5 separate regions of the Homo sapiens genome follow, and regions 1, 2, 3 and 4 are each linked to region 5. The links come from fine-mapping of genetic effects on gene expression. A gene starts in region 5. Each other region holds a variant in brackets. All regions are shown on one strand. Distances are between the middles of the regions.

The links.
Region 1: its variant is fine-mapped to the expression of SULF2 in unexposed skin (GTEx, PIP above 0.99). The same link has a PIP of 0.9 or more in skin.
Region 2: its variant is fine-mapped to the expression of SULF2 in whole blood (INTERVAL, PIP above 0.99).
Region 3: its variant is fine-mapped to the expression of SULF2 in whole blood (Lepik 2017, PIP 0.93).
Region 4: its variant is fine-mapped to the expression of SULF2 in whole blood (TOPMed, PIP above 0.99).

Annotation. Positions count from the first base shown.
Region 1 is chr20:47,902,690-47,907,790 of GRCh38, forward strand. It overlaps the pseudogene RNU7-92P. Among named protein-coding and RNA genes, the nearest start is that of LINC01523, 78 kb to the right of the region's middle. The variant A/G (reference allele first, on the strand shown) is at 2,481.
Region 2 is chr20:47,761,378-47,766,478 of GRCh38, forward strand. The region is part of intron 1 of SULF2 (sulfatase 2); the gene reads right to left. Among named protein-coding and RNA genes, the nearest start is that of SULF2, 22 kb to the right of the region's middle. RefSeq lists enhancers at 24-562, 4,283-5,055 and a silencer at 4,928-5,101. The variant T/TCA (reference allele first, on the strand shown) is at 1,958.
Region 3 is chr20:47,661,280-47,666,380 of GRCh38, forward strand. It overlaps SULF2 (sulfatase 2), which reads right to left. Exons shown (of 21, transcript NM_001387048.1): 12 at 4,981-5,101; 13 at 4,578-4,674; 14 at 3,920-4,014; 15 at 2,851-2,910; 16 at 2,174-2,343; 17 at 1,791-1,933; 18 at 494-617. Among named protein-coding and RNA genes, the nearest start is that of SULF2, 120 kb to the right of the region's middle. RefSeq lists enhancers at 1,927-1,976, 2,787-2,926, 2,957-3,006, 3,540-4,525, 4,526-5,101. The variant T/G (reference allele first, on the strand shown) is at 2,126.
Region 4 is chr20:47,733,471-47,738,571 of GRCh38, forward strand. It overlaps SULF2 (sulfatase 2), which reads right to left. Exons shown (of 21, transcript NM_001387048.1): 3 at 3,233-3,472. Among named protein-coding and RNA genes, the nearest start is that of SULF2, 49 kb to the right of the region's middle. The variant C/G (reference allele first, on the strand shown) is at 2,417.
Region 5 is chr20:47,783,446-47,788,546 of GRCh38, forward strand. It overlaps SULF2 (sulfatase 2), which reads right to left and starts at 2,036. Exons shown (of 21, transcript NM_001387048.1): 1 at 1,898-2,036. It overlaps LOC124904920 (a long non-coding RNA gene), which reads left to right and starts at 2,309. Exons shown (of 2, transcript XR_007067618.1): 1 at 2,309-2,717; 2 at 2,960-3,440. It overlaps LOC124904921 (a long non-coding RNA gene), which reads right to left. Exons shown (of 3, transcript XR_007067619.1): 3 at 3,895-3,971. RefSeq lists an enhancer at 3,154-3,323.

The DNA.
Region 1 (5,101 bases), 120 kb after region 5:
GAGCTAGGGTTTCACCATGTTGTCCAAGCTGGTCTCAAACTCCTGACCTTCAGTGATCCGCCTGTGTTTACAGGCATGAACCACTGCACCTGGCCCATAAAGCTTTATTCTATTTTAATGAAGCAAAAATGCATAAGTGTGTAAGTGTGATCATATGTGTGTGTATGTCTAACAGGAGCACTACATAGCAAAATGCGAATGCTGCTTATCTTTGGTGTTGGTATCACGTGTGATTTAAAATCTTTTCTTCTATTTTTAAAAACTTTCAAAATGAGTCATGACTTTGATTATTAGAAAAGAAATCTATAACAATTGAGAGGAAAGAAAACCCCACCTGTTGTTGAAACTGGCTGGAGCTGGGAGAAATGAGAGATTCCTTTGCAGGTGTCACCTCCCTACCAGAAAATTGGCCTTGCAGGAATGTCCCACAAGCCAGATGTGTCTCTTTCCCCCAGTCCCTGTGCCTGGTGTGAGGTCGTACAGACAGTGAGCATCCTTCACAGAGTCTGACCTGCCAAGGTAGGGGGGAAGTGGGGGTTTAGTGACATTCAAAACCCGGGGGAGCCGAACAGGTGTGACTGTATGTTTGCAGGGTGACCTCTCCCCTCAAAGAGCAAGAAATAACTCTAGTGCAATTTCCAAACATTTACAAGAGAGGATTTTTAAACTTTTCACTTCTTTATTGCAACTAGCACATTTGGAAGGATAAAATACAGAAAGAAGTCCTGCTATTTACAATCAACTTTCACTAAGCCAGTGTTATATTCAAAAACAGCAGATAAAGCTCATGGCTTTGATGAAAGGGGCAGTCTTTTCATTGGAAACAATTAATACTGCTCCCCGTTCTGGGGAGAATTTAAAGAAAATAATTTGGAAGGGGATATGGCTTGATACAATCAAATGATTTCAGATCACAAATGTAATCATTTGATCTTGCTTTAAAACCAAACATTTCAGAACAATCTAGCATCACATTCTCTTCTGAGTCTGTGAAACTCTGAATTCTGGGTGAGTCTGAATTCCCAAGGCAGGACTGAGGATAGAAAAGATTTGATGGCAGAAACCTGGTACTGTGGTTATCACGTGGGTTAAAGATGTAGGCTTGGTTAACCCACTGAACCTGCTTATGTATGAGGCTCACCTGAGAAGGTGATATGGACAAGCCCATCTTATGGGTCTGAGGGCTCTTCACCAGGAGTGGAGCAAGGAGGATGGCCCCAGCGTCCCCGTCTCTGAACACGTTTAGCGGGAGGGCTGTAGAGCCTGGACAGATCACCACTGGCTCCATGGGGAACTTTCAGCAGCACTCATTGCCTGTGTCTATTCTGTGCCAGGCACTGCGCTCAGGGCAGGGATTTGGGATTCACCAGGGCACAAGGCGACGTGCGTCTGTCCTCACGGAGCCTAAGTGCTGGTGGAGACGGACAGTGCAGATGCCAACCGCAAATGACGAGGCACTTGCAGGTAGGGGTCAGCGCCAAGAAGGAAATGAAGGGTGCGTGTCGCTGACTGAGACTCTGGTGGGAGCTACTTAAATAGGGCCATGGGGGAGGGCCTCTCTGAGGAGGTGACATTTGAGCTGAGGCCTCACCAATCAGAAGGAAAAAGCTGTAAAGGGTCTGGGATTAACTCAACCTGGGGACTTTTAAAATAATGTAAGGTGTTACAGCTCTTTTAGAATTTGTCTAGCACGTTTTCCGGTTGTCACTCCCAGGTGGGCTCGGGAAGAGGCATCTGTGCCAGCTCGTGGCCTGTTCTTTGCACTTGTGGGGAAGGGGTCCCCTTTTCCCACAGCCGTCCCCCCGGGGCCTGCTCCCAGGTGGGGTCTGGTTTTCACCAGAAAGCCCTCCATGCAAAAACAAAAAACAAAAAACAAAAAAAACCCACCACACAATTGAATTTGAATTAGTTGCCAGCATTTACATTTTAATTCTAAAAATCTGTATTTTCGACTTCGTTGGAAAGTCAGACTATCTGGCCAGGCTGGGCTGGGATCTGGTGGAGTTCAGTATTTTGGTTTCTGGTTAGGGAGGGTATTTGGGGTTTGCCCCTCCAGCATCTGTTCCAGTGTGAAGTGGGGGTGGAGGCCCAGGCTCAGTGGGGGGATCTGCAGTGGCCAAGGGTCTTGGCTGTCTCCAGATGGCCGGATGGACGCTGCCCCCTCCTGCTTGGGGTGTGCTGGGGTTCTTTGCTGCCCCTCCTCCCAGCCCACAGCCTCTTGAACTCCACGGAGACCACCCCCATGTGAGGCTGGGAAGGGAAACCTGCCTTTGTAAGTGGAATCAGGTGAAATCGGGCTGTGACTGTGTCAGTCAGAAACTAAAAGGCCCTGTCACACCCGTGGCCAGGAAGACTGTCACCATGGTGGCATGGAAATGACAGAGACGTGTGGGACAGCGTCTGCCAAGAGACGAGCCAGGTGAGGGCAGGTCGTCATGAAGGAGGGAGGTGGGGTCCTCCCCACAGAGCAGCGCCATCCC[A/G]CAGAGAAACAGCCTCTGGGGAGGGACGCGTTCCAAGGAGGCCCCGTGCAGTGCAGAGTGGGTGGCTCGAGGCCTGAATGCCGGGCACTCGGAGCGGTCAGTGTCCCCGTGGGAGCAGGGCTGCTCGCAGCCAGGTGATTGGCGACCTTGGATGGTCAGCCCCTGTGTGCGTGTGAGGGGGTGGCCCTCTCCTCTGTCTCTTCTGAAGGCAGCAGTAAAGGAGGGAGGCCAAAGAGCTCAGTGTCAGACGAGCCTGGGTGCAGGTCCCACTGCCTGCCAGGCCAGTGCCTCTGAGCCTCAGTTTCCTCATCTGTATAGTGGGGTTAATCCCAACCATGTATACTGTCTGCCTGCCATGTGCCAAGCCCTTCTAACACATCTTTGATTGCCTGAGGGCAGGGACTTTATTATCCACCTTTAGAGTTGAGAAAGAAGAGGCACAGAAAGGTTAAACCACTTACCGGGGGTCACACAGCTGCTATGGCAGAGTAAAGACTCCAGACTCAAATGGAGCACTAAGCCCCGCCCTGGGCGCCAACAGGTGCTCCAGGAATGTCAGGTGCCATTTATCACCCTCATCACCTACTGGGAGCGCTCGTCCCATCATGCAAACCCCGTGAGCGTGAAGTGAGGGGACACGTGCAGGATCGAGTGTACTGGCGGGTAATGAAAGTAAAGTAATAACCACAGGATGATATTCACAACCCACAGTAGTGCTATCAACAGCCGCATCTGCCTGCTTCTCTGGGCCCAGGATTGCCTGCAAACTCCCAGGAACTGGTCCTAGGTGGGTCAGAAGAAGGGTCTGACGTTATGGGAAGGAGCAGCTTGCCCAGCTCATGGCCTGTACTGTGCATTGGGAGTCCCTGCCCCCAACAGCTGTCCTCCAGGGCCTGCTCCCAGGTGGGCTCAAGAGGCCACAGAGCTAAGCAGCTTTAGGCCAGGGTTCTGCGGGTTACTGTGTGCCTGTGGGAGTGACACCCCCACCCCCAACCTTCCTGCCCTGCCAGCTGCTGGACACACAGCAGCTACAGGGCATGAACCCTGAGACCAGGACCTCTGTGGGTCCCATGGCACAGAGCCCCCTCCTCCCTGCCCGACTGAGAAGGAGGAGGCGCGCCTCAGGGTGAATCCTGCCCCCCCTCCCCCGCTCACTGCAGGATAAACGGCCTCTAGATCGAACACCTCACAACAGGATGTGTCTTAGCGTGGTTTATCAAATCACAGGCTGTGATGCATTAGTGGGTCTTGAAATCAATTTAGAGTGTCAAGCCCGGCATTGAAAATCTGCAATAGAACCAGAATAGACTAGGTCAGGAGGCATCAGAGCGCGTTGTGTGCAGCGAGGGTGAGTGTCGTTTGGGTAAACGTGCTGCGTATCTGTATAAATGGATGTGCTTGTGTGTGGTGGGTGGCAGTTTGCAATGTGTTTTTAGGTGGGTTGCACTAAAAACGTTAGAGAATCTCTGTCTCACCGCCTTACGGTAACACAAAGGGGAATCACCTAGTAGTGATCATTTTCCTCAGAACCTTACATTTCCCTGATTTGAGACCGTTTATAAGACTGAGAAACAGGTCTAAGCTGGTGCCAAGAGTTTTGGTTACGTCAGGGATAAGGCTGTGGCTCTCTCATCCCACAGTCCATGCTGAGGGCTGGAGGGGAATTGAACTGCAGGATGAAGTGATGAACATGCAAGAAATGAGACCGGGAATGGGAGAGGCTTGCAAGGCAAACAGAGATGGGGAGAGGAAGGGACGTGGGTAGGGGTGGGTGACTGTGAGGGAGAGAAAGGGGGTGAGGGGTTATTTATGAAGCTCTAGGAGCTGCCTTCCTAGAGTCCGTGCCACCTGGACTCAAACACTCATTGTCCATTCAATGACCCCTTGGAGCTTAAGAGCTCTGTTAGGATCTGAAATGTGTCCAGCAGATCTTCGGAGCCATTGAATTTTCATCCCATGTGGGATCTGGACACATATGCATGCAAACTAACATCCTTACACATATGCACACACAGATACACATGCCCCCACATACTCATGCATCCACGTGCTCACACACAGATACACTCACACATATACATTCATGCACATGCATGCATACAATGCCCACACATATATGCACACTGATACACACTCACAGACACACTCATATGCACACACACACATAGACACACTTATATGTACGCTCACACACATGCTCACTCCTACATGCACTCTCCCACACCCACACATGCCCACGCACTCACAGACACAGTGAGTCAGGTGTATTTAATACGCAGTTCGTGCCTATGCCTCCCCCAGATCCCCATGTGACCTGCTCGTTAGAGGAGGCCCGGAGTCCTTGGGGGAGCCCTGGTGTCCCGCCACCTGATCTCCATGACAACCCATCCCGACACCGGTTTGTGAGTGTGAAAGCTTCAGGGCCCACAGGACCTCCCACGTTAATTCATGGAGATCAGCTGTTCACTACTCAATGCTCCCAAGTTATGTGAGGCAGCGAGGCACAAAATTGGCATCTGCTGTGGTGTGTGTGTGTGTGTGTGTGTGTGTGTGTGTGTGTGTGTGTATGTGGTGAGCTTGGTGCACAGGTAGGATGAGGTTTGGGGCAAAAGGGCATGAAC
Region 2 (5,101 bases), 22 kb before region 5:
CTGCTGAATCTGCAGAGCCCTTCAGTGATTATTTGCTTAACGTGCTTCTTTAAATGGCCTCATTTTAAAATAAAAACACAAACACATGTTTTGGGAAAAGAAAACTTCCTACCCAAAGATAAATGGAAAGTGGACATCGCTTCCCTGTAGAGCTAATTGTACAAATAAAAGTCAAAGAAAGCTGAATCAGTGGAACTTGATGCAAATAGCTTCCCAGGCTTCGCGTGCCCTCGCGCTCGCACTCTCTTTTGAAGTGAGATTAGCAGGTGTTGAAAGGAGTCAAAGCACATTAGCACCATCTGAGACTTTCTGCTGGAGGTAACTGGAGGCTGCCAGACAGCTGAAAAGGAGACAAACTCTAGCCATCGAATCAGTCCCTGAACCACCCCAAATCAGAGTAATCCTCAAACTATGTTGTGTATCTGATATGGTTTGGCTGTGTCCTCACCCAAATCTCATCTTGACTTGTAGCGCCCATAATTCCCACGTGTTGTGGGAGGGACCTGGTGGGAGATAATTGAATCATGGGGGTGGTTCCCCCATACTGTTCTCATGGTAGTGAATAAGTCTCATGAGATCTGACGGTTTTATAAAGGGTTTCCCCTTTTGCTTGGTTCTCATCTTCTTTTGTCTGCCATCACATAAGACGTGCCTTTCACCTTCCACCATGATTGTAAGGCCTCCCCAGCCACATGGAACAATGAGTCCATTAAATCTTTTTCTTTTAAATTACCCAGTCTCGGGTATGTCTTTATCAGCAGCGTGAAAACAGACTAATACATTATCAGTGGCCCATGTCCCTCCATCGGGAAACACTACGGGATGCTTTGCACTTGAAACTACGATTGCAGCAGCCAGCGTTCTAAGATGCACATTCACGTTCCTTCAGAGAGACAGACGTGGAGTGCTAATATTGGGAGAATTCCGATGGGGTGCCCTACAAATAGCAACTCTCTGAAACCAGAAACCAATCACAGGAAAACCTTTCTGAAAGCTTGCAGCACACTCCAGTCTCTGCTCTGAGCTGTTTGCAGGTGTCAACCCAATTAATATGCACACCCACCCATCAATATTTCACCCATTTTATGGATGAAGAAGCTGAGGCACAGAGAGTTAAAATCACTTTCCCCCGATCATATGGGTAAGTGGCAGAGAAGGGGTTCAAACCTAGTCTGGCCCGATTTGGGCAGCTCAACCAGGACCCCCTAGAAGCAGATCTTTGAACAAGTTCCTAAGAGTCTCCCAGCCTCAGTTTCCTCATTTGCCAGGTGGCCAGGTGCCCTCTGAGGGCCTTTTTGGCCCTGGGCCTGTGATGCCAGGGTACAGGGGGGCTGGGAAGGGCAGTCTTCATTGGGAGCCCTGGGCTGGGTAAAGATGGAGCCCGGGGCACAGTCAGCTGGACTTCGTTCCTGGCTCCCATGTTGGTTTCAGAGCACCCCCCACTCCTGGGCGGCTATCACCCGCTCTCCTCTGGATGGAAGTCAAAGCTCCGGCACCAGAAGCCAGAGAATAACAGGAGCTAATTATTTCATCAGATCAAGTCATCAGTGGGTCGATTTCTGATGAATTCCCCTGGCTCAGACTTCTCGTGGCCTCATGCCAGTTTCTCTCCGGATGCTGAAGAAATCAATTAAAGATGACACAAGGGATTCTGCCTTGTTTTTTTTCCTTTTTCTTGGTAAAATATTCAAAGTGGCTGAACCGAGAGAGCACCCAGTGAACTCACGCAGCACCAGCCGCCTGCCACTCCATCCCTGCTGTGGACAACACCTCTCCTTCCCACCAGTTCCTTTCCAGGTCTCTCTGGCTCCTCCTCTCCATCCTGAGTCTTCTCCAGGACCTTGGCAAAGGCTCGCCAGCCCAGGAGACATCTCTGGAAACAGCTAACGTCCTGAGCATTTAGAAACATCATTTTTAGTTCTCAATTTCTCTGCCGATCTGCCAAGAGGAACGGGTC[T/TCA]GAGTGACTGATGCCCTCACCTTCCCAATGCCACAAACCACAGCGGTGAACAAACACCTGGGACCTCATCCAGACCTGTTTAGAAAGACCCAGATGGGCTGTTTTCCTCTGAGGATCTCCAAATCCAACAAGAGGAGGAGAGAGAAGTTTGGGAACAATCAGGCAGCTGAGGTGGTGGGAGAGGAAGAAGGGGCCAGAGGCAGAAGGAGGCACTGGTCAGATGGTAAATGTCCATGAAAGGCGGGAAGAAAGCAAACTGTGGGTGTGCAGATACGTCCCACGGGCTGGGGCCAGAGCCCCGCAACAGACCTAGCGGCCTCCCCAGGTGGTCCAGAGAACCTGATCATTTCTCTCTCTTCCTTCTTTCACTTTACAAATACGTATGAAGGACCTCCTATGAGGCACAGTGTTCAGTGATAGGAGAATCCTGCCTGGATTCCAACAGCCTCCTAACTGGTTTCCCTGCTTCTACCTCGTCCCTTCCATCAAGCAGCCAGACAGATCCTGTTAAAACAAAAGCAAGGGCCTGCCTTCCTCCACTGAACGGCCTTCAATAACTTCCATCCCACGCAGAGTAAAACGCAAAAACCCTCCAAAGGGGCTACAAGAACCCACCCAACCTGCTCCATCACCTCTCCGACCTTATTGCCTTCCCCTCTCTCCCTTGCACACCTGGTTCCAGCCACACGGTCTCTGTACTGTTCCTTGCACATGCTAGCACAGCCCACCCCAGGGCCCTTGAACTTGCTGCTCCCTCTGCCTGGAGCCTTCATTCAGGTTATCTTCACCATCCCTTCTTCCCCCTCCTCAGGTCTTTGCTCAAATTTCACCTTGGCAGGTTAAAACCGAAATCTCTGCCCTCCCCAGTAGCACTTACCACCTCTCACAGCTAGCTCCTTTATTTCTTTGCGGATGTCCTCCAGCAGAATATCAGCCCCCTGAAGGTACAGGTTTTTGTCATTTTTGTTCAGATCTATATCCTCAACAATTAAAACAATGCTTGCGGCATAGCAGGCATTCAAAATATTTACTGGCTTAACAAAGAATTATCTCCTGTCTCCTGGTAACAGCCCCTGTTAGTGCTTTGAGGCCACAAGTGCTCTTATTTCCCACCCCCCCTTATATATGGTTTGACTGCAGGGCAGCGCATGTGAGCCAGGTGGAGCCAATCAGCAATTCCAGCTCTAGCTTCAGCGATTGGTCCTGGGGCAGACATGTGACCCAAGTCTGGCCAATAAGCGAGAGGGAGTCCTGGAGGCTGGAGGAGACTGTGCTGGGTGCCAGGAGGCATGAATATGGTGCTGATGGTGGCCGCCCATTGGATGGAGCCCGAGAGAGAGGATGCTGGTGACAATGGGGTGGACCAAGTTGCATCTTGTAGCCAGGTACAGACTCAAAAAAGTGCCCTTTGCTGCTTAAGAGAGTCCGAATTAGGGCTGTCATTTGCAACAGGGAGCACCCAGACCAACACAGGAAACACCCTAGAAGAACAATAATGAATGATAGCTAACATCAGGGGCCCTGCACAATTCTAAGCACTTTTAGTGTGTGACCTCACGCCACCCTTACAACCACCTTGTGAGTTGGGATGCTCCATTTACAGACAAGGAAGATAAGGCACGGACAGGTTCCAGAACCTGCCCAGTGTCGTGCAGCATGGGTGCTGAATACTGTCCCTTTGGTCCTCCCTTCCCATCTTCTCTCCACCTCCAAATCCAACAAGAGGAGGAGAGAGGGCTGGGCGCGGCAGCTCACGTCTGTAATCCCAGCACTTTGGGAGGCCAAGGCGGGCGGATCACGAGGTCAGGAGATCGAGACCATCCTGGGTAACACGGTGAAACCCCGTCTCTACTAAAAAAAATACAAAAAAATTAGCTGGGCGTGGTGGCGGGCGCCTGTAGTCCCAGCTACTTGGGAGGCTGAGGCAGGAGAATAGCGTGAACTCAGAGGTGGAGCCTGCAGTGAGCCGAGATCGAGCCACTGTACTCCAGCCTGGGTGACAGAGCGACACTGCCTTAAAAAAAAACAAAACAAAACAAAAAAAAAAAAACAGGAGAGAGAAGTTTGGTAATAATTAGGCAGTTGAGGTGGTGGGAGAGGAAGAAGGGGCCAGAGGCAGAAGGCGGCATTGGTCAGACGGGAAACACTCATGAGAGGAGGGAAGAAAGGAAATTGTGGGTGTGCAGATATGTCCCACGGGCTGGGGCCAGAGCCCAGCAACAGACCTGAGGGCCTCCTCAGGTGGTCCAGGGAGCCTGATCATTTCTCTCTTCCTTCATTTACTTTACAAATATTTATTAAGGGCCTGCTATATGTGAGGCAGTGTTCAGTGATAGGAGAATCCTGCCCGATTACAACAGTAATCCACTCTTCCCTGTCCCCTGGGAGGTTCACTTGGATGTGCCACCTCCAAGTGACAGACAAAACAAGCAAGCCAGCATGGCTATTTGCACACAGACATTCTGACCCCAGAGCCTACTCTTTTGACACTTATGCTGACTTGGAAAGCAACAAGTGATACAAGGGACTGAGGTTAAGTGTGTTGTATAAACAGCAAGAGGAAAGGGGAAACTGCTGGCCTGGGAGCAGTCAGGGAGGGCTTCCTGGAGGAGTACTTAGCATAAACTGAGCAGCCTAACAGGAGCAAAGTTCTGAAGAATCCAAAGGATTTGGATGGCCAGTGAAGAGGAGGGTGGAGGACAGGATGCTTCAGGCAGGAGAAACAGTTTGGGCAAAGAGCAGGCAGAGGAAACAGAGAGAGGCCCCTGGAGGGATGGGAAAGTGTGGTCCCAAACCTCACAAGCCCAGAAGCTGTCTAGACAGGGGATGACACACGCACATCTGTTAAACTTTACACTCCCCTGTGTCTCCCTTTCTTCCTGGCTACAGGCTTTCTCCAGCCTTCTCTCCTCCTCTTTGGGGCCGTCAAAGAAAGGACAGAAGCTCCTGTAACCTATGGGCCACAGCTTCTCCCTGTCTCCCCTACCTAGCCCAGGCCATCTTGTGGCTCTCCTTGCCTGTTCTTGGAATTCCAAATGGAGGCAGAGAACCAAGCCGGCTCTCAAGAACAGGGCAGGAGACAATAGAAGGGTCATTCAGAGGGAGGAGGGAAAGATCAGGTTTCAAGACAAAGGCTCAGGATCT
Region 3 (5,101 bases), 120 kb before region 5:
AGGACTCAGTTCAGAGGTCTGACCCTGGTTTTATTTAGCAGTGCCCTTCCCCAGTCACACTGGATTCTACCATCCAGTTTTACCCTTTCCATACAAGCAAGAGGCCTCCTGCTGTGGACTGCTCTTCTTAGGACAACACTGGCTCCACACAAGTCAGCGAGGATGGGGTCATCTTTAGTCAACATGGTTTCAGGTGTAAGTTCTCAGGAAGTGTTTGTTGAATGCATGAGTGGACAAAAGGGAGGACAATGAAATGAGACGGAATTCCGTGTGTTTCCTGGGCAGTTGGTGCAGGTGTTCCTCTCTCAGGAATCACAGCTTGTTAAAGGTCATCTGCCTGCTATGGACAGGGGCTCCCATGACTCGTCTGGAACTGTATCACCTCCCAAAGCCTGGTGATTTCAGGCTCATTCTTGGGGTAGACACCACCTCCTGAGTCCCTTCCTTTGGTTACCCTGCTGTCCAAGGGCCCCACGTTGGGGTGCCTACTCACCCAGGTCCATGTTTCGAGTCCGGGGGTTACACTGCTTGTAACCCTTGCAGCTCCTCAGCTCCATGAGCTGTACGTGTAGCTGGTTGAGGACATCCCTGTCCAGTGTGTTCACTGCATTCATCAGCTGGTTGCAAAAAAGGTAGTCTGTCAACAAGGTAAGTACAGGGACTCTCGCCCTGCCCTTCTACCAACCAGGGGACATATTTCAGGCAGGTGGCGGGTGGAAGGTGCTAGGGGCTGGTGACCTGTTTACTCCAACTTCTGCAAGAGCCAGCGTTTGGAAGAGTTAGGTGACTTTTTGGCTTCAAGTCCCACCAGGTTCACTCTTCATGAGAGTGAAAACTCAGGAGAATAAAAACCACGTCTGTGTATTTAACGTTGGAGTTCTGCAGCCACTGGTCAGGAAACTTCCCAAGCTTGGAAAGAAAGCCTTCCAAGTCTTGGTTTTATCAGCAGCCTTCATTCAGGGGCCCTCAGCTCCTCCTGATTGCAAAGCAGCCATTTGATGAAAGGACGGGTAAGTGGCCTGGGTTCTTGTGTAGTCTGGGAGCTACCGGTGAGGGACTTAACCTACCCCTTTGGTAAAGTATGAGGGTGAACCTATCTAAGGAGAAAGACTGCACACCTATATAGTAATTAAAGCATTTGTGCTGCTGACATTTAAACATCAGATTTCATTTAAATTATTTCAGGCTTTTCTTGAAAGGTCAAAGCCTGGGCAATACCAAGGCCACAGTACAGGAAAGCTCTAGTGCTGGAGCTCAGTAGTGACTGTCCCTGTACAAGGGCCCACATGTTCCGATGACCAGACATGCCACTGCTCCTTTTGGTCTTGTGTGGTCCTGGGCCACTTCAGTCGCATGTGTGTTTAGATGGCTTACTGTACGGAAGCACTTAGCAGAGTGCTTGGTGCAGTGTGTTACTGTTATATTAGCTGCGCGGTCCGTGTAGGCCCTGCAGTGGGTGATATTTGGCTTGATCCTACAGCCTGACAGTGTTAGGAGTCTTCACAAGTTCCGGCAAAACCTGGTTGCATGCTGCATGTTAAGTTAGAGGGAAGAAGCCATATATATTACACACGCAGGGTGATGGAGGCAAAAAGCAGGGTGATGGAGGCAAAAAAGGCTGATTGAACACAGAACCCCCAATCTCAGCAGCTTCACAACTTACTCCCACCGGCTCAGGGACTCAGTGGGACTTGGACAATTTGTCATCACTTCCCTGAGGTTGGGGGGGGCCTACCTGGCAGCACTGGTGTACCCCACACCCCCATCCCTCTAGCTCGGGTTGCCTGTACCTGGTAGGGGTCTGTGTTGAGATCAAAGTACTCTAGGAAGCCAGTTGCAAATTCACAGAAGAGGAAATTGTGAGTCTCATTGATGGTCCTCATGCACCAGTACGTGTTATTGTTGGCGCTGGTGCAGGCACAGAAAGGCCCCACTGCCAAGGAAGAGAGAGCATGTCCTGAGTGCCTGCGGGAGGAGGCCCCATCTGCCAACAGTGATTCCTGTCAGGGACAGCCCCTAAAACCAGTTCGTCAAATGCCAAGAGGCTGTCCCGAGCACCGTGGACCCCTGGTGTTGGGGACCCCCTTTCTGAGAGAGGTCTGGGTCACTAAGTGGAGAAGTTTCT[T/G]GAACCCCTGGGCCTCAGCCTGTCCACCCCTGCCCTGGGCTTGCTCACGTGTCCAGAAAGGCGCCGTCTGCCAGTGCTGGTTGTCGTGGGTGAAGCACGTGAGGCCTGGCATGCTGCACGTGTCGTTGTTCTGCAGGCGCTTGAGCAGCTTGCGGAGTTTCTTCTTGCGCTTCTGCTCCCGCAACAGCCACACCTTGTCCTTCTCTTGCAGGCCCTTCCTATGGGCGCAGAGGGCCACACACACCTTGGGCCTCTGAGGGATCAGTGACCCCATGTCTCTGCTCTTCCTGTCCACCTAAGGGCTTCGCTGAGGCTTCTCCAACAGAGAGCCATGGGCATAGCAATTCAGGGTCCCAAGTCCCAGTGCTGCTCCAAGGCAGAGCCGGGACCAGAACCTGGGTCTTGTCATTCTACTTTAACTCCCAAGGGGGCACAAGCTGGGGACAGAACCAGGCAGCTACTGGGACTCCTGTTGACACCCCTTTCCCCTCCTTCCTGTGTCCTGCCCTGCTTGGTGGAGTTGCGGTAACCCCATTTAGCCACAAGGGGGCGTCGGAGGCCCGCTCAGTGTTGATTGGGAAGTAAGGCCTCTTCGAGGGCTACCGTGGACTTCCCAGGGAAGGGCCTGGACTTCTTTCCTTTTCTTCTGAGTTTTAGCTTAAGGGAGGGCCACCTCCTCATGCAGGCCTCTGCATCTCTTCCCCAGGACCTCAAGCTGCTCTTACCTGAAAGGATGCAGACTGGAGCCTCTGTGCTTGAGGCGGCCTTTGTGCTGGGTGTGGTAGCTGTAACAGACCCCCCCAGCCCCAGGCTTCAGGAGTGGCTCAGAGGGCTCCGCTGGCAGGTGCAAGCTGTGATTTCTGGGACTCCCATGTGTTGCTGCTGCCCCACCCCTGTCCCTCCTTCTGGGGTGGTGGTGGGTAGGGCATGACCCTATCCTCAGGGCAGCAGGTGCCTGCCTGAGTGGCTTCTTTCTCCAAGCATGAGCCAGGACTCTGCCTGGACTTTTGCTAGACTTTAGCAGGTTGGGTTAATTGTAATTTAGCCACGACTAGAAGCTGGGCCTGGCTTTAGGTGCATCAGCCTCAGCATCCTTTTTCCTTTCTTTTTTGATGGTTAATTTTACATGTCAAAGCCTCAGCATCTTGAGGTTGGTTCCCTCACCACCCTGCCTACTCACACTTGGTCGGGGTCAACACAGGGAAGCCTGTGTTTTGCAACACTTTCTGGAAAGACAGCAGGGCTTCTACAGCTGTGCTGTCCAGTATGGTAGCCACTGGCCACAGGTGGCTACTTCAATTTGAATTAAGCAAAATAAAAAATTTGGCTCCTTAGTGACACTAGCCAAAATTTTAAGTATGCACCAGCCACGTGTGGTGTAGTGCAGATATAGCCCATTTCCGTCAGCACAGAATGTTCTATTAGAGCTGTTCTAGAGTTCAGTCCTTTGGGCCAGGGGACCCCTAAGCCGGGAACATGGACCTCAAACCACATGGGGGATTTCTGAAAGGGCAATCGGCAGAGGCACTTTTCCGGCCTGGAGCCGGCTCTGCGCAGCCAGCACGGGTCTCTTGCTAGCAGTACTGGAATCTGGGCGCCAGCCTGGCTGAGGAGCAGGTCCGTGTGCCACACTGGCTGACAACAGGGAGGTAAATTACGGATTTTTTTAATGCCATGAGGGGAGAAGATAAAGATAAAAATAAAAAATGAAAGGGGTCAATCACGAGAGGGGATGAACTGAACTGTCCTGTAGGAGAGTGGGGTCTTAGGGAGGTCCCTTTGCTACTGCCTCACCTGATTTTGTGACAGTCACATTCTTCTGGCCGCTTTTTCTTCAGGTGACCTCGGACTTCCCTCAGGTTCTTAATTTTGTTCTGCAGGGTTTCAATCTGAGGGAGGGGCAGAAGAGGAGGCCTTGAAACCTTCAAGGCTGGACAACAAAGACTTGGCCTGGTGACTGCCCCCACGCTGCCGTGTCTGTGCTCAGCAGCGGCAGCCTGCACTCCCCGGGCCCCAGGGCAAGCACCGGCATGTCTGGGTGGGGAGGAGGTACTTGTTCTGCCTGAAGGAAGCCCGCCTTCTCCTCCAGCCAGCCCTTGCAAGGGAACCGAGTCATTTTTCCGGCCTGGCCTGCGCAGGAACCCGCTGAGCCCACTGAGGCCTCCAGTGTCTCCCCTGGGTTTGATGAAAGGCCTCCTGTAGCGTAGACTTCTTGTAAGTCAAAAGGGGGACAACGTGGCTAAGCCATCGTCCCTCAGACGGCCTGGGCAGGAAGCTATCTGTCTCATGCTGGGACTGACACCTATCCCCGCGTTGAGGAATCTGTGGGGACCTCACTTCACCTCTCCAGCCTCTTCCCTGGGTCTGGCCTCACTGCCCTCCCACTGTGAACCGGGGGTCCTGCCAGGCCCGTGGTGGCCGAGAGCATGCTCCTCTCCCGCTCTCCACTCACCTCGTGGTCGATGTGCAGCTTGTGGTCTTTCCAGGCCTGCAGGGACTTGTACAGGTCCAGGTCACACTGGACTGTGTCGTTCTCTAGGATGTAGCACCTGCTTGAGAGAAGGGATCACGTGTGGCTCGGAGGTGGTGGAGGGGGAGCAGCCCAGGTGCCCAAGAGGTGTGGGAAGCCCTTGCCGAGGTCTGTCCTGTCCCCTTCACCCTCGACTTCCACCTGGACACTCACCGATGTGTCACTTTAATGGGGTTGGCGGCTGAATAGTCGGGAAGGCCTCCAGTGCCACTGAAGTCCCCACCATCCTTGTCATCTTGGTCCTCAGGGGCCCAAGAGGTGTGGGAAGCCCTTTGCCGAGGTCTGTCCTGTCCCCTTCACCCTCGACTTCCACCTGGACACTCACCGATGTGTCACTTTAATGGGGTTGGCGGCTGAGTAGTCGGGAAGGCCTCCAGTGCCACTGAAGTCCCCACCATCCTTGTCATCTTGGTCCTCAGGGGCCCCTGGCCAGTGCCGCTTGGTGA
Region 4 (5,101 bases), 50 kb before region 5:
TTAGATGCAACCTAACAGAGGGCCGGGTGCGTTGGCTCATGCATGTAATCCCAGCACTTTGGAAGGCCAAGGCAGGTGGATCACTTGAGGCCAGGAGTTTGAGACCAGCTTGGCCAACATGGCAAAACCCCATCTCTACAAAAAATACAAAAATTAGTCAGGCGTAGTGGCAGGCGTCTGTAATCTCAGCTATTCAGGAGGCTGAGACAGGAGAATCGCTTGAACCCAGGAGGCAGAGGTTGTAGTGAGCTGAGACTGTGCCACTGCACTCCAGTCTGGGTGACAGAGCAAGACTCTGTCTCAGAAAAAGAAAAAAAGAGATGTAACATAACAGAGTTATTCTCGAAACATTGTAGTTTCATTTCAAGATCAAATACCTTACTAAATACATTAAAAGCACTATTTATTATGAAATGTTGGTCCACTTAAGTAGCATTTTTCTGGGGTCAGTCTTCCTCAGTTTGGGCTGATCTCCTCTATTCAAACGAGTATCACAAACACAAATGGCTAATAACTGTTAGGGTGGCCTAGACTTCACTTGTCCTTCAGTATCCGTTTTCTTCTTCTCCCACAGTAAAATAACTTTCATCTGGGCAAATGTCCACCTAGAATAAGACTACATTTCCCAGGCCCCTTTGCTGCCATGCATGGCCATATGACTTGTTTCTCACCAATGGGAAATAAGGAGAAATGGAGTCGGAGTCTCTGACCACTTCATAGAGCAGGGCCACCAGAACAACTTGGAATTTTATTTGACATCCCCGGTCTCTCTCACACACACAGCCAAACTTAAATCCAACTGAACCAACTTTGCTAGGTGGCCACGTGAACACAGGGTTTAACATGGCTGAAGACTCAGCAGGAACAATTTACTTTTGGTCCTTGGGGGATTAAAAATTTACAGTATATTCTAATATGTATGTACAAATCAATCTAAAAGGAAAAAATAATCTAAAAGGTTTTGAATTCATTATAGATTTTTGTCATTTTTCTTAGTCAACACTGATCAGTATAACATATCACGCAGTTGGATCTTTAAAAACATTTCCACTTTAAACAACAACTCAATATAAAACTCAAACCTGAGCTTCCTAGCTGCCAGGGCAAAGAGGGAAACTATACAGGGTATGTGGCTCTTATTATGTAATAACAAGGAGTACACCAGTTCATCAGACTAAACAGGTGTTTTCAGGGTCCTGAGTTCTGAAAGTAAGGCTGGAATGGGATTCTTTGTACAGAGTGGCATTCTAAATATAATGAATAAAATTCTCAGTGGCAGTTTTACAAAAACGTAAATGTTCTCGGTATCTGGCTCTTTACACTTGACATTACGCTCCCAGTCTTCATGAGGGTATAATAATGAATCATAGTTGAATAAAAGCACTTATTTAGGGAGACAGCTTTTTGGTGATTTGCATACATTCAAGGACAAGTTTGGGAAATCCACTTTAGAGAATGTTTATTCTTGAAATGATTGATTTTCTCATGTCGCCTGTAAGATTTTGAAACACTAGCCTTTAGCTCCCACCCTGAGCCCTCAAAATGGCACAGAATATATGAGTTTCCTTTCAGTCTGATGAATACTATTTCCATGCCCCCTCTGAATTCCCATGATCTTGCATTCCATTTTGATTATGCCACAAACACCTCACTTTGACTCTGGGCAGGTCTCTTTTTTGGGCTGCAGTGGCCCTGGCTGTGAAATGAGGGGGATTGATGAGAACAGGTCTAGGGTCTTTACTGATCTTCCAGCATCCAAAACGAAAGGTTTCTGTACAGACCTTTCACCCAGAGGTTGTGAAAAGAGAGTCTGTGAGCCACACACTCACTCCTCAGACATATTTTCTTTGGCCCCCAGTATACATTAAAGAAAAAATAAGCTGTGCCGGCATATTTTAAAATAAGATTTTCAGTGAAATATTCAGACTTTAAAACATTTCAAGGCTGGTCACTCTTGAGTGCATGGCTGTACTTTCTAGAGCCAAGTTGCAGGTGCATCTTCAATAAGGGCCCACTGCTGTGCTGCGGGCCTGCCTGTCCTGCTTCTGCTAGCAACATCCAGGCCCCCGCCAATCATCTAGGGTGGTGGCCATGGTAACTTCTGACACATGTGGCTTTCTGCAGAGGCTCAGGGGAACCAACAGGTGGTTGATTCTGCATAATGGCACGCACAATACACAGGAACAAGGTATAGGAACGAGGCCTTCCTAGTTCTCAGCAGAACATACTTTCTAGGTGATTCTGGCTATGGGATGAGGCTGTAAGAAGACACACCTTACTGGCTTGCTCCCCACACCAAAGCATCCCTGCCAGCCCACACTGTGTATCTGAGAGGAAGCTGCCCAGCCTCGAGGGCTGCAGGTCCAGCACTGCGGACAGGGCTGGAGGAGGAGTCCATCCTTCCCTTGCGGCACTC[C/G]CACCCAAACAAACCCCTTGTCACTTGGATGCAACTTCCTGGGGTTGCAACATCTGAGCCACAATATCTTGATTTCACAACCGCCGCGGCTTCTTACCCAAGGCGGGGAGTATTTATTTATTTTTAATTAAAGCAAGTTAAATGAATTGAGTCTGGAGGGTTTTGCAATGGCGCTACAGGTAAGTGACTATACTGTAATTGCATCTCTACCTCAGACAACCAGCCTGGCAGGTGAGCCTTCAGAGCCCACCAAAGACCTCCTGAAGGATAAGCAAACAGGAACTGGGTCGCCCTCCACCCAGGATGACACGGGTGAGTGTGGACAGTCAACCACCATGTCAGTTTCTGCACCACCTTGGTTACTGCCACGTAGAAAGCGACCACACAGCCCCATTATCTGTTCCCCTCCATGAATTCCCATCCCCCACCCCTATGTTTTGGAACCTTCTTCCAAGCTAATGGTTTGAAGTCAACGAAACAGTCCCTGATGGGCTTAATAACTATTAACAGAGGATGCAAACTCATGCATGGGCACCTTATGGCCTCTCCACACTATGATTCATAGTTTGAAAAGACTCACTTTTTTGGGGGACTCAAATTCCTTTGACAAGGTCACTTTACATCACTACTGTAGGCAAATAAATCTGTATTTCTTTAATACACACAGAAATAAATGCACAACTCTGAAATTATAAGAGAGTTGCTCTAGGGGCTATCCAGAATCAACTTGGGTACCGCAGTGGTGTGCAGACCACACCTAGGGACGCCCGCCCTGGCTGTCACTCCCTTCCTGCACCTGCCCCCGTCCCTGCTCACCTGTCCGGTAGCCAGTGCTATTGAGGTACACGGCAAAGGTGCGGCTCTCGTGCTGTGCCTGCCAGGAGGGCGAGGAGCAGTTCTCATTGTTGGTGTAGGTGTTGTGGTTGTGGACGTACTTGCCAGTGAGGATGGAGGAGCGTGAGGGGCAGCACATGGGTGTGGTCACGAAGGCGTTGATGAAGTGCGCCCCGCCCTGCTCCATGATGCGCCGGGTCTTGTTCATCACCTGCATGGAACCTGCAAGTCAAGGGTGGAAGTAAGGCGCAGGGCAGGAGACCCGGGCGGCACCGGCACCAGGGGGCTCTCAGCACGTGGCATCCCTAGGTCTGGAGTGGGCACATTCTGCAGACCTACGGGGCAGACGGGGCAGGGGCCACTGCTGCACGGTGGGACTGTCCTGCATAATCAGGAAGGACCCTGGGTCCCGAGTCCACCTGGACACTCCTGAGGTCCAGGTCTGGAGTCTGGAGGATTTTGCAATGGTGCTGGAGGTGAGTGACTGTAAGTGACTGTACTGTCACTGTCCGGTACTGTAATTGCATCTCTACCTGCAAGGCAGGTAAAAACCTGTTTATAAATGACCTGAGACTGGAATCAAACTGTTTTACAAATTTTAAACACAACATTGTTTTTGCAGGGTATTAATATACATTGTTTTGTTTTTTCTTTTGGAAACCAACCACCATGTAAATTGAGGGAAGATTATACTTTCTTTTCTTTGGAACTTTCCCAATAATTGTTTGCTCTTACTGAAATCTGGTCATGCCAACCTGGTGGCAAACCTTCTCCCTGAGTATTCCCTGGCTGAGGTGCTCTGCCATCAGCCACAAACCCTGCTGGCCTCTTGTCCACACTTTTCTTCGAGCCTGGAACCCACCACCCCTCACCCCAAATCCAACCCATCGGCCTAGTACCCTCTCGTAGGGAGCCTCTGGCACCACCCTGGGCTTGAGAGCTCTGAGCAGTCTTGCAGCATGTGTCCTGAGTACTGATCATACCCCAGGCTTCGAGGTTTCGGTCATGCCTGCTCTTGTTTCTTTCTTTTCTTTGTTTTTTTTTTTTTTTTTTTTTTTTTGAGACAGAGTCTTGCTCTGTTGCCCAGGCTGGAGTGCAGTGGTGTGATCTTGACTCACTGCAATCTCTGCTTCCCGGGTTCAAGCGATTCCCCTGCCTCAGCCTCCCAAGTAGCCCCTATACGCAGCTAGTTTCTGTATTTTTAGTAGAGATGACGTTTCGCCATGTTGGCCAGGCTGGTCTGGAATTTCTGACCTCAAGTGATCCGCCTGCCTCTGCCTCCCAAAGTGCTGTCATTACAGTCATGAACCACCTTGCCTGGCCATGCCTGCTCTTGTTTCTCAACCAAGCTGTAAGCAGAGCAAGACACTTAGGAAGAAAGGCAAGAAGGAAGGAAGGAAGCAAATGAACGTGTGTGGGAGCCCTACTGCGTGCAGGCCAAGGTCCCAGGAGGGCAAAGGCTGTGTGCTCCGCTCAGCGCTGAATCCTCAGCACTGCTGCCGTGTGTGACACACAGTGGGTACTCAACATAGGTGTGACGAGTGCATGCTCAATTGTATGCTGTGGTTGGTACCCAGACCCTTAGTGATTTGATGGAAATATTCCATGGAAACCCTCTCTCCTTCTTCTATGGCCATCCTTGGTTTTTCCCCTTTTCCTTGCAGTTCTTAAGGTGTGCAGTGGGTTGAACGGTGCCCCCGTCCCCTAAAGATAAGACCATGTCCTAATTTCTGGAAGCTGTGAATGTGACCATATTTGGAAAGAGGGTGATATGGTTTGGCTGTGTCCCCACCCAAATCTCATCTTGAATTGTGGCTCCCATATTTCCCACGTGTTGTGAGAGGGATCTGA
Region 5 (5,101 bases):
TCAGGTGTGAAACTGCATATCAACTGGGTTCTTTGGACAGCAGCTGAACTGGGGGACATGCACGTGCATGCACACACACTGCTATGCTGTCCTCCTCCAAGACCAGACTTTTACAGTCAACTCATCACTCTACTCTCAAGTTTGAAAATTTAACATGTTATTAGGGTTTCAGAAAAAGCCATAAATTCAAATAAAAAACCCAAGAAGTACACACAAAGCCCAAACCCCAAACCCACATTGACCCTCAGCTGCAGCAGTGATGCCAACATCACGGCCTTTATGTATATAAATTTAGCTGGGGAAGGAAGAGGCCTTCATGTACAAAGGTCCAACATGCCATCTGCCAAGCCCACCACCTTCGCCTTTCAAGCTGCTTATTAGAACGCTAAATTACACATCCGACAGGCTGTCTGGATGAGTTTTCTCTTCTCTATGATGTGGGAGAGACGAAGCTGGGGAGAACATCTCTTACAGGGAAGGGGCCCCCTTCGTTCTGTCCTCCCTACCCCGTTCCTATACTTAACGATTGGCTCTAATTTAATTAGAACCCTCTGGTGGTTCTGTAATGGGAGGCAGAGGCTGTCAAGAAATCACCTTCACTATTCACTACAAGCTGAAATTTGGAGAGCGCGCAGATCCGGGGGTGTCCTCCAGAGAAAGCCCGTCTCTCCTGCTCCCTGTCTCCCCCTGAGAACCTGCTCCAGCGCAGCCTCCCCTTCTCTGCCCCAAAAGTGGGGGTGGACCCGGTGGGAAACAGGCAGGGGACAGATGGAGGGGCGAGAGGGCGGGTGTCCCAACACGCACAGATGAGCAAATACCCAGATTGAAACGTAAGCTGAATGTAATTACTTGGTTAATTAAATATTGACTTTTAACTCAAAAAGTGATTAAAACAAGCTGCAGGAAGACTTTCCAGAAAGGGGGGCAGGGAATGAATCAAAGCTTTCAAGGGGGAGGAGGAGGAGGAGAGGGTCGTCACAGGCAGGTCTGGCTTGCTCTTCCTACTGTGTGCTGGGCCTACTGCGTGCAGGTGGGGGAGTTGCGGACCGAGGCCAGTGTGCAAACTAGGATTGCAGGCTTCCCTTTCCATCTTCCACCCCGAGACGGCATCTCTCTACCCTGCTGCCCTCCCAGTGAACCGGCAGCTTCTGGCGCGCAGGAGCCAGATCCTGTTCAGCCGCGTTTCCCTGGAACAGAACGCGGTGCCCGGCACGAGGGGGTGCTCCAGAAATGCTTGTAGAACGAATGAACGAACTACTATAAGGAATGTTTGGAAAAGTGCACTCCTAGAATTCACCGCTAGACTTCTGAAACCCCGAGGAGCCGGGGAGGGGAGCATCCCTCCGCCAGGCGATGGAAACTCGTTCTGCCCTGGCCTGGGAGGAAGTCTGCCTTTTCGATCCTGTTTGTCCTTTCGGTGTCTGCGAGTTTCCAACCACTCTGAAGATCCGGCCCACTGCTTCCCCGAGTCCTGCCCGGACAAGCCCCACGTGGGCTGGCATCTACCGGTCCCTTGGGTCTAAACCCTAAGGGTCAACAAGGCCATGCCCCTGCGGATGGCCGGCCCAGGCGCGCTCCCCTACCCGGGGCCGCCTGTGCTCGGTGTGCCGTGTCCGCGGGTCAGGGGCGCGGCGGGAAGTCCTCGCCCGCCCGCCAGCCAGCGGGGTCAAACAGGTCATCCCTCTGCGGACGGCCGGCGCCGGAGCCTCCCTCCCGCCCGCCCGGACCCACCTCCGCAAGCAGCGCTGGGGCTGGAGCCGGGCGGTCCGGACCAGCCCCGGCTCACCTGGGCGGCGCTCGCGGCCGGGCTCACGCCGGGGAAGGCTCCGGCCGCCGCGAGCCCCCGCCCGAGCCCCGCGTCCCCCAGCCACCCACCTGCCCCCCACGCCCCACTCACCAGCGCGCACGGCCCCGGCAACCTCACCCGGAGCGGGGCGCCGCCGCCGCCTCTGCCGCAGCCCGGCCGGGCCGCTGGGCGCAGGGGACTCCGCGCCGCCGCTGCCGCTGCCGCCGCCGCCGCCGCCGCTGCCGCTGCTGCATCCCCCGGCGAGCGCTGCTGCTCCTCCTCCTGCCTCCTCCCCGCCCCCCAACGCCGCCGCCACCGCCCCCGGCCCCCTCCCCGCGCGCCGCCCCAGCCAAAGTCCGGCTCCGCACCCCGCCCGGACCGCTCTTAAATCGCCCCAGCCCGGCCGGCCACGCTGCCCCAGCCAGCCCCTTGGCACGGCGCTACCGCCCCCCGCTCGCCTGCCCGCCGGCCTCCACGCAGGGGAGGCGGGCGCGCTCCGGGGCGGGGAGCGTCGGGCCGGGAGCCGCGGACGGCTGGGGCCCGGGGCGCGGGGGGCCCAGCCGCGGTGCCCTCCTCGAGCCCTCCGCGCGCTAGCGCTTTTACCTCCGGCCTGGGGGACGCGCGGCCCGCGACCCGGCCCTGCCTGTCCCCGGCGCACGGCCCCGGCCCCGGCCCCGAAGTCCAGCTCCGGACGGGGCAGTGAACGCAGAGCTGGGGTCCCGGCGGCTCTCGACCTCCCGATGCCTCCGGACTCGGCTGGCCGCGCTCCCGGCGCCGAGCGCGCACCCTCGCCGGGACACACAGACGCACACTCACTCGACACACTCTCGCTCCTGCTCGCCCTCGGCGGAGAGTTGAAACAGATGTGGGATTCGCCCAGGAGCTGGAAACGAGGGAGGGAAGCGAGCCAGAGCCTTGTGTGCACGTGTGTGTGCGTAACACACAAACCAGGGGGCATCGCTAATAAATCAAATATCGTGATAAATTCAGGAGGGCCATCGATCAGGTCCACTTGGCTGGAAACGACGTGAATCTGCCTCTTTTCCGCTTTCTTCTTCTCCTCTCTCGGAGCTGGAGGGAGCCAAATGTTCCGCGGGGAGTGCGACAGCCCCGGCCGGGCGCTCCCCTCGTAATGACACGTTAATAAATGTTTTCTTTTATCTGCTTTCACAGGACTCGCCCCGGTCTGCAAACACTCGACTGCCTTTGCCGAAAGCCTCGCGCTCGCCTCCAGCCACACACATTTGCCATTGGAGAGGCCGGCGCCGGCCGCGACCCGCAGCTCAATCGCAGGGCAAACCGAGCTGCCTGTGCGCGCCCGAGAACTCCCCGAGAAATTAACTTCGGCTCAAGTGAAAATAGCAGCTGTTGTCCAGAAATGGCCCGGGAGTAGCATAGAAAGGAGAAACCGGCTTCCTCCGAAAGGGGAGGAATTGGACTCAAGGGGGTGCTGTCTACCGTGGTTTCCGCTGTCCCTCGCGCCACAGAAGAGGCCGGAGGGGGACCGGCCTGACGCGGGTGGGCAAAGAGCGGGCAGAGAACTCACCAGCAGCTGCAGAAAACACAGCCGAGTTGCTAGCTAAGGGGAAACAGACGCCGCTGTGGGAAAGCACTTGTAAACAGCAGTAACTTATTAAATCTTGTGACAATCTCACACAGTAAGTTACTATGCCCGTTTTACCATGGAAACCAAGAGAGGTTTAGTAACTGTCCGAAGATCACACAGTTATAAGTGGTGGATCCTGTGAAGCCAAGAAGCCTTAGCTCCCGGCTCATGCTCTTAAATCCTAGGATGTTTTTACTTTTCAACCTAGCATCTCCTTTCTCTGATATGATCCTCCATGGTAGAGTTGTCAGACTTAACAAATAAATATAGACATCCACGGGGAGGAAGTTAGTACTAAAAAATCATTCATTTTTAAATCTGAAATTCAAATCGGATCTCCTGACTGGGTTTGGAGCTCTAGGCTCCTCCCCATAACCTCTGTTAGCCACGCCAATCAAGTTAGAGCCTAAATAAATCAGAAAAACCTTGCACTTGCTTTTCCAAGTCAGGTGCTGGCCCTACCTTTGGCATCACTGATAAGGCTGAACAGCTCCCACCTTCTTTGCCCTGGGACAGAATGTCAGGCTTCACCATCATAGACCGAAAAATAATGGAGACCCCTCTCCTTCCGCCTCATCTCTGCAGAAGGACATATATATCATTTAGAATTTTCTAGTAGTGGCATTAGAAAGTAAAAAGAAACAGGTGAGGGCCGGGCACAGTGGCTCACGCCTGTAATCCCAGCAGTATGGAAGGCCGAGGTGGGCGGATCACTTGAGTTCAGGAGTTCCAGACCAGCATGGGCAACATGGTGAAACTCCATCTTTACAAGAAATACAAAAATTAGGCTGGGCATAGTGGCATGTGCCTGTGGTCCCAGCTACTCGGGAGGCTCATGTGGGAGGATCACTTTGAGCCTGGGAGGTGAAGGCTGCAGTGAGCCATGATTGTTCCACTGTACTCCAGCCTGGGTGACAGTCAGACCCTGTCTGAAAAAAGCAGGTGAAATTAATTTTAATATTAATAATATAGTTTACTTAACCTAGTATATCCAAAATCGATCTCTTCAACATGTAATCAATATAAAATTAATGAGATATTTTTACATTATTTTTTCTTACTAAGTTTTGTAATCTGGTGTACATTCTAAACTTACAGCACATCTCAATTGGGACCAGCCACATGTGGCTCAGGGGTCCCATGCTGGACAGTGCAACTCTGGCAGGTTCTGCGGTCAATGGCTGTTTCCACCGGGTCATTTCATGTAATCCTCCTGACAATCTTTCAAGCAAACTGATGCTCAGAGAGATAAAGGGTCTTGCCTATAGTCAAAAACTTGGCCAGTGGGATTTCAACCCTTTTGATGCTGTCCCTGGTTTGGGGACATGTACCCCACTGCAGAAGCAATTTTCTTACTGAATCCTCAGGGCCCCTTGGTGGTGCTTCTGGGGCCTGGGGTGGTGGAGGGAGGCCCAGGAATGGGATCTGCCTCCCTCCTACTTTTTATGTTGGGTTCTGGAGAATATTTCAGGGGTGGGGAAATTTCCACGGCAAAAAAAGTCTAAAAAAAACCCCACTGCATTACCACACTGTGCCCTTAGGTCCTCGAGTTCCTGAACATGGCTCTCCCATACCCATAAGGATCCTGCCCACAATGTTTCACTCCATCCTTCTCTGCTCGTCAGGTAACCCCAGTCAGAGAGGGGATGCTTACAATCCCTTCTTCTGGGGCTGTGGGCCTGGCGGACACGTGGCATTTGCTTATCTTT